2 linked regions of the Homo sapiens genome follow. The protein of the gene in region 2 purifies or fractionates together with the protein of the main gene of each other region. This does not show direct contact. Each region holds a gene or a part of one and is shown on either strand. Other genes may lie near its edges.

Evidence for each region. The genes of interacting proteins can lie anywhere in the genome.
Region 1: the proteins of CTCFL (region 2) and NES purify together in Homo sapiens (affinity purification with mass spectrometry; one large-scale study listed by BioGRID and IntAct). This does not show direct contact.

What each region holds. Positions count from the first base shown.
Region 1 is NC_000001.11:156,668,263-156,671,335, reverse strand, and holds the end of NES (nestin), read left to right. Parts: coding exon 1-2,014; 3' UTR 2,015-2,573; downstream 2,574-3,073. UniProt on the Homo sapiens protein: Required for brain and eye development.
Region 2 is NC_000020.11:57,507,936-57,511,782, forward strand, and holds part of CTCFL (transcriptional repressor CTCFL), read right to left. Parts: intron 854-3,847; coding exon 671-853; intron 1-670. UniProt on the Homo sapiens protein: Testis-specific DNA binding protein responsible for insulator function, nuclear architecture and transcriptional control, which probably acts by recruiting epigenetic chromatin modifiers.

The DNA.
Region 1 (3,073 bases), on a different chromosome or scaffold from region 2:
GGAAGATACGGTGGAGAAGGACCAAGAACTGGCTCAGGAAAGCCCTCCTGGGATGGCTGGAGTGGAAAATGAGGATGAGGCAGAGCTGAATCTGAGGGAGCAGGATGGCTTCACTGGGAAGGAGGAGGTGGTAGAGCAGGGAGAGCTGAATGCCACAGAGGAGGTCTGGATCCCAGGCGAGGGGCACCCAGAGAGCCCTGAGCCCAAAGAGCAGAGAGGCCTGGTTGAGGGAGCCAGTGTGAAGGGAGGGGCTGAGGGCCTCCAGGACCCTGAAGGGCAATCACAACAGGTGGGGGCCCCAGGCCTCCAGGCTCCCCAGGGGCTGCCAGAGGCGATAGAGCCCCTGGTGGAAGATGATGTGGCCCCAGGGGGTGACCAAGCCTCCCCAGAGGTCATGTTGGGGTCAGAGCCTGCCATGGGTGAGTCTGCTGCGGGAGCTGAGCCAGGCCCGGGGCAGGGGGTGGGAGGGCTGGGGGACCCAGGCCATCTGACCAGGGAAGAGGTGATGGAACCACCCCTGGAAGAGGAGAGTTTGGAGGCAAAGAGGGTTCAGGGCTTGGAAGGGCCTAGAAAGGACCTAGAGGAGGCAGGTGGTCTGGGGACAGAGTTCTCCGAGCTGCCTGGGAAGAGCAGAGACCCTTGGGAGCCTCCCAGGGAGGGTAGGGAGGAGTCAGAGGCTGAGGCCCCCAGGGGAGCAGAGGAGGCGTTCCCTGCTGAGACCCTGGGCCACACTGGAAGTGATGCCCCTTCACCTTGGCCTCTGGGGTCAGAGGAAGCTGAGGAGGATGTACCACCAGTGCTGGTCTCCCCCAGCCCAACGTACACCCCGATCCTGGAAGATGCCCCTGGGCCTCAGCCTCAGGCTGAAGGGAGTCAGGAGGCTAGCTGGGGGGTGCAGGGGAGGGCTGAAGCCCTGGGGAAAGTAGAGAGCGAGCAGGAGGAGTTGGGTTCTGGGGAGATCCCCGAGGGCCCCCAGGAGGAAGGGGAGGAGAGCAGAGAAGAGAGCGAGGAGGATGAGCTCGGGGAGACCCTTCCAGACTCCACTCCCCTGGGCTTCTACCTCAGGTCCCCCACCTCCCCCAGGTGGGACCCCACTGGAGAGCAGAGGCCACCCCCTCAAGGGGAGACTGGAAAGGAGGGCTGGGATCCTGCTGTCCTGGCTTCCGAGGGCCTTGAGGCCCCACCCTCAGAAAAGGAGGAGGGGGAGGAGGGAGAAGAGGAGTGTGGCCGTGACTCTGACCTGTCAGAAGAATTTGAGGACCTGGGGACTGAGGCACCTTTTCTTCCTGGGGTCCCTGGGGAGGTGGCAGAACCTCTGGGCCAGGTGCCCCAGCTGCTACTGGATCCTGCAGCCTGGGATCGAGATGGGGAGTCCGATGGGTTTGCAGATGAGGAAGAAAGTGGGGAGGAGGGAGAGGAGGATCAGGAGGAGGGGAGGGAGCCAGGGGCTGGGCGGTGGGGGCCAGGGTCTTCTGTTGGCAGCCTCCAGGCCCTGAGTAGCTCCCAGAGAGGGGAATTCCTGGAGTCTGATTCTGTGAGTGTCAGTGTCCCCTGGGATGACAGCTTGAGGGGTGCAGTGGCTGGTGCCCCCAAGACTGCCCTGGAAACGGAGTCCCAGGACAGTGCTGAGCCTTCTGGCTCAGAGGAAGAGTCTGACCCTGTTTCCTTGGAGAGGGAGGACAAAGTCCCTGGCCCTCTAGAGATCCCCAGTGGGATGGAGGATGCAGGCCCAGGGGCAGACATCATTGGTGTTAATGGCCAGGGTCCCAACTTGGAGGGGAAGTCACAGCATGTGAATGGGGGAGTGATGAACGGGCTGGAGCAGTCTGAGGAAGTGGGGCAAGGAATGCCGCTAGTCTCTGAGGGAGACCGAGGGAGCCCCTTTCAGGAGGAGGAGGGGAGTGCTCTGAAGACCTCTTGGGCAGGGGCTCCTGTTCACCTGGGCCAGGGTCAGTTCCTGAAGTTCACTCAGAGGGAAGGAGATAGAGAGTCCTGGTCCTCAGGGGAGGACTAGGAAAAGACCATCTGCCCGGCACTGGGGACTTAGGGGTGCGGGGAGGGGAAGGACGCCTCCAAGCCCGCTCCCTGCTCAGGAGCAGCACTCTTAACTTACGATCTCTTGACATATGGTTTCTGGCTGAGAGGCCTGGCCCGCTAAGGTGAAAAGGGGTGTGGCAAAGGAGCCTACTCCAAGAATGGAGGCTGTAGGAATATAACCTCCCACCCTGCAAAGGGAATCTCTTGCCTGCTCCATCTCATAGGCTAAGTCAGCTGAATCCCGATAGTACTAGGTCCCCTTCCCTCCGCATCCCGTCAGCTGGAAAAGGCCTGTGGCCCAGAGGCTTCTCCAAAGGGAGGGTGACATGCTGGCTTTTGTGCCCAAGCTCACCAGCCCTGCGCCACCTCACTGCAGTAGTGCACCATCTCACTGCAGTAGCACGCCCTCCTGGGCCGTCTGGCCTGTGGCTAATGGAGGTGACGGCACTCCCATGTGCTGACTCCCCCCATCCCTGCCACGCTGTGGCCCTGCCTGGCTAGTCCCTGCCTGAATAAAGTAATGCCTCCGCTTCAAAGTCTGGACTCTTCTTTCCCCCACTCAGAGGGGACCCTCAGGGTTAGTACAGGAGAGAGATGGCGGGGGCGGGCGGGGGGTGGCGGGGGAGAGGAGGAAGCTGGTGCTGGGGAGGGGCTGCCTCCTGAGGAGAGGAGGACCTGGGGGGATGAGGGCAGACAGACCCAAGCTGCAGGGAGCAGTGCTGGGGCCTGGGGAGGGCCAGGGGCTGTTGCTTGGCTGGGGGAGGCCAGTCCAGGTGACCTCAGCGCCTGCAGAAGCCAGGCCCATCATCATCTCTGCCCACAGTACTGATTACAGGGATTAGGCCTTGGGGCCACCCCCACCCTTGTATACCCCCCCCCATTAGTGCCTTGGTGCCGCCAGCATAATAAGCCCCCTTGTCTCTAAACCCAAACAAGTTGTCTGGCCTGATCTCCTCAGCCTGACTGGGTGGGAGCAGGGTGAGGGAAGAGGCAGGCCTGTTCTTCCTCAGTCTGGCTGCATGGCCTCAGGTCAGCA
Region 2 (3,847 bases):
TTTTTTAATTAAAAAAGTTATTTTAGAGACAGGGTCTCACTCTGTCTTTGAGGCCAGAGTGCAGTGGTGCGATCGTGACTCACTGTAGCCTCCAACTCCTGGGCTCAAGTGGTCCTCCTGTCTCAGCCTCCTGAGCAGCTAGGCCTACAGGGGTGCACCACCACAACCAGCTAATTTTTTTGGAGGGATGGGGGTCTCCCTGTGTTGCCCAGGCTGATCTCAAACTCCTGGCCTCAAGTAATCCTCCCACCTTGGCCTCTCAAGTAGCTGGGATTATAGACACCAATAACATTATTCTAGGGACATCTGAAAAAATGTGTGAAAACTGCATTCTCTCTGTCAAGTAGCCTAAATCTAGTTCACTGTTTGAAAATATTACACTAAAAGGTGGGGTTCTTTGGGGAGTCTGATAACTCCCTATTGTAAGATTTTGTGTGTTGGATTGTCCTTTTTTTTTTTTTTAGGGGATGAGGAGACCACACTTTCATAGGATTCTTCAAGAATTTTGTGATTTTAAAAAACTAATAACCACTTTCCTAAGGCATGACAGATGCTCCTGAAGTCCTGGCAGGTTTCTATAATCGGGTTTAAACTCTCCTGGTGTGACACTGTCCTCCTGAGATAGAGGGATCTTTCCATGGGGGATTTACTGTGACTTAAGTAAGCTTACCCAGCGGGAAAAGCCTTTGCCACACTTGGAGCATTTGTAAACAGTCGGGATGAAATTTGCATCGTGGTATTTCCTGAAGTGAGCGTTTAGAAGTTGCTTCTGTCGGAAACATTTATTGCAAGAAAGGCAGGTGAATGGTTTCTCTCCAGTGTGGGTACGAATGTGAGCGGTCATATGACGTTCCTAAGAGGGAAGGGGAAGAAAGCAGCTTGTCTAGTTCAAAGGGTTTTCTCGATATTAGACACTGTTTATCATACAATACCTTTTATTTCCCTCCCCAAAGATGAGTCCACTATTAAGCAGAATTACTGCAAACACATTCTGAACAAGGCAGCATTCACTCTCAGTAAGTGGCCGCCTAGGAAACAAAACTCGTATGCAGCAGCAAGTGACAAAGGTCTTGCAGTGGATTCCTTGCTGGCTCTCCTGTCCTGTTGGGATGTGGGAGTACACACCGCAGGGCGTGAAAGGATGGTCCTTTGTCCTCTCATTACTGGGAGTCCTCCTTCTATACAACTATTTACAATTACCTGAATTTACAAAGGGCAAATAGAACCTGCAAACTTAAAAATCAAATGTCAGAGTTTAAATTCAGCAGACCTTTGGGGTTGCAAGTACCTTAAGTATCAACATTTTTCCATTTACTTCCCAATAGTATCGTAACAGATCTTAATACCGATTTTTTTTTTTTTTTTTTTGAGACAGGGTCTCGCTCTGTCACAATCATAGCTCACTGCAATCTCAAACTCCTGGGCCCAAGTGATCCTCCTGCCTCAGCCTCCTGAGTAGCTGGGACTGTGGACGCATGCCACTATGCTCGGCTCAGTTTGTATTTTTTGTAGAGACAGGGTCTCACTATGTTGCCCAGGCTGGTCTCAAACTCCTAGCCTCAAGCAATTCTCCTGCCTTAGCCTCCCAAAGTGCTGGGATTATAGGTGTGAGCCACTGTACCTGGCCTAAATAGAGATTTTATCTTAGACAGGAGAAAATAATTTGGGAAATCAGGAAAAAAATATGTATGAAGTCAAGCAAAAGTACACATTTTGTTTTATTTAAAATGTGATGATTATTTGGATTAAATATATATTCGGCCATTTCTGCATTACTGTCAGTGGCCTAACTGATGCTCTTTCTTCTAATCTTTCTCTCACCCAATTCACTAAACACCCTCTTCCATGCACAGCTTTCACCTCATCACCCTCCTTTGGGACAGCATCTCTGGCGCTCCCTGCTGGGAGCCTGACTCTCCAGGACCGCGGCAGCCAGGAGCACCCAGCAGTGCTCCAAGCCTCTGCCCACGGCCATGACCTGCCTGGCTGCTCTCTACTCCCACATACCTGCTGTATGCCTGCTCCAGGGCCCCTCATCCTTTCCAAGTCCTATCCATCTTTCAGGAAGCCCTCCTAGTTCATTTGAATAAGTATGAGCCTGAGGCCTCAGAATATTCTTTGTTCAAAATCTACCAGAAAAACTCCTTTTCCCTTATTCAAAGCATTTACAGTTTACAGCCCACACTTCAAAACACACAGTAAGCACTGATTTTCACCTTTGGTAACCAATAGCATGCAATACTTTGAAGCAGTGTTTTGGTTTTCAAACTTCTACTCTGAGGGCCTTTTATACTTTAAAAAATTACTGTGGCCTCTGAAGAGCTTTTATGTATACAGGTGGCATGTATTAGTATTTACTTTCTTAGAAAGCAAACCTGGGGAATTCTTAAGTGTTTTTTAAAATAAAACAATTTATTAACTCATTTAAAAATAAAAACAAACCAACTACATATTATTTCTGTAAAATTATCTATTTTTCAAAACAAAAATAACCTAATGTCTGTCTTAATAGATAAGGTTTCCAGTTAAAATACAGGCTGCAACTACTTGTATATAAAACTATTTGTTGTTGTCTGAAGTTCAAATGTCACTAAGTGTGCTGTATTTTTATTTGCTAAGTCTGACAGCTCTATTAAAAGCATTCGGGGCCAGGCGCGGTGGCTCACGCCTATAATCCCAGCACTTTGGGAGGCCGAGGCGGGCAGATCACGAGGTCAGGAGATCGAGACCATCCTGGCTAACATGGTGAAACCCCATCTCTACTAAAAATACAAAAAATAAGCCAGGCGTGGTGGGGGCCGCCTGTAGTCCCAGCTACTCAGGAGGCTGAGGCAGGAGAATGGCGTGAACCCAGGAGGTGGAGTTTGCAGTGATAGCGCCACTGCACTCTAGCCTGGGCAACAGAGTGAGACTCCGTCTAAAAAATAAAAAAATAAAAAAAGAATTCAGATGGATTCCTATCTCTGCTCTTCCCTCAGTCCACTGGAGTATGTTAAGTGATAAAGAAAATTTGGTCTCACAGACATGTAGTTTGAAAAGAGAGCAACATTTTACTAGCTCTTCCAAATAACTGTGGGCATTCTTCTCTGCTATTACACTAAAATTCAGTTAGTAGTAATTTCTTTTTTTAGGGTCTCACTCAGTTGTCCGTGCTGGAGTGCAGTGGTATGAACACAGCCTACTGCAGCCTCAACCTCCTGGGCTTAAGTGATCCTCCAACCTTAGCCTCCTGAGTAGCTGGGACAGATATGCACCACCACCCACAGCTAATTTTTGTATTTTTTTGTAGAGACAGGGTCTCATTATGTTGCCCAGGTTGGTCTTGAATTCCTGAGCTCAACAGTTCTGTCCATCTCGGCCTCCCAAAGTGTTGGGACTATAGGTGTGAGCCAGTGTGTCTGGCCATGGTAATTTCTTACCATGGGTTGCAATGTGGAATCTGAAACCGTGCCAAAGAACTTGTGCTCCTCTGCGACATTATAACCTCTTGGTCTATCTTTTACTTTGAATGGATCTTTTACCTGTGTGTGAGTCTGTAACATCATGGATTGGTCATTTGGAAAATACTAGTTCACTTGAGTTATGCAGATCTTCTAAATGCTGACATATTTCATCACACAATATAAAAGTTGCTTTAAAAAAATCACTCTAATCCCCCCCCTTTTTTTTTTTTTGAGATGGAGTTTTGCTCTGTTTCCCAGGCTGGAGTGCAGTGGCGCGATCTCGGCTCACTGCAACCTCTGCCTCCCAGGTTCAAGCAATTCTCCTGCCTCAGCCTCCTGAGTAGCTGGGACTACAGGCGTGTGCCACCACGCCCAACTAATTTTTGTATTTTTTAATAGAAACG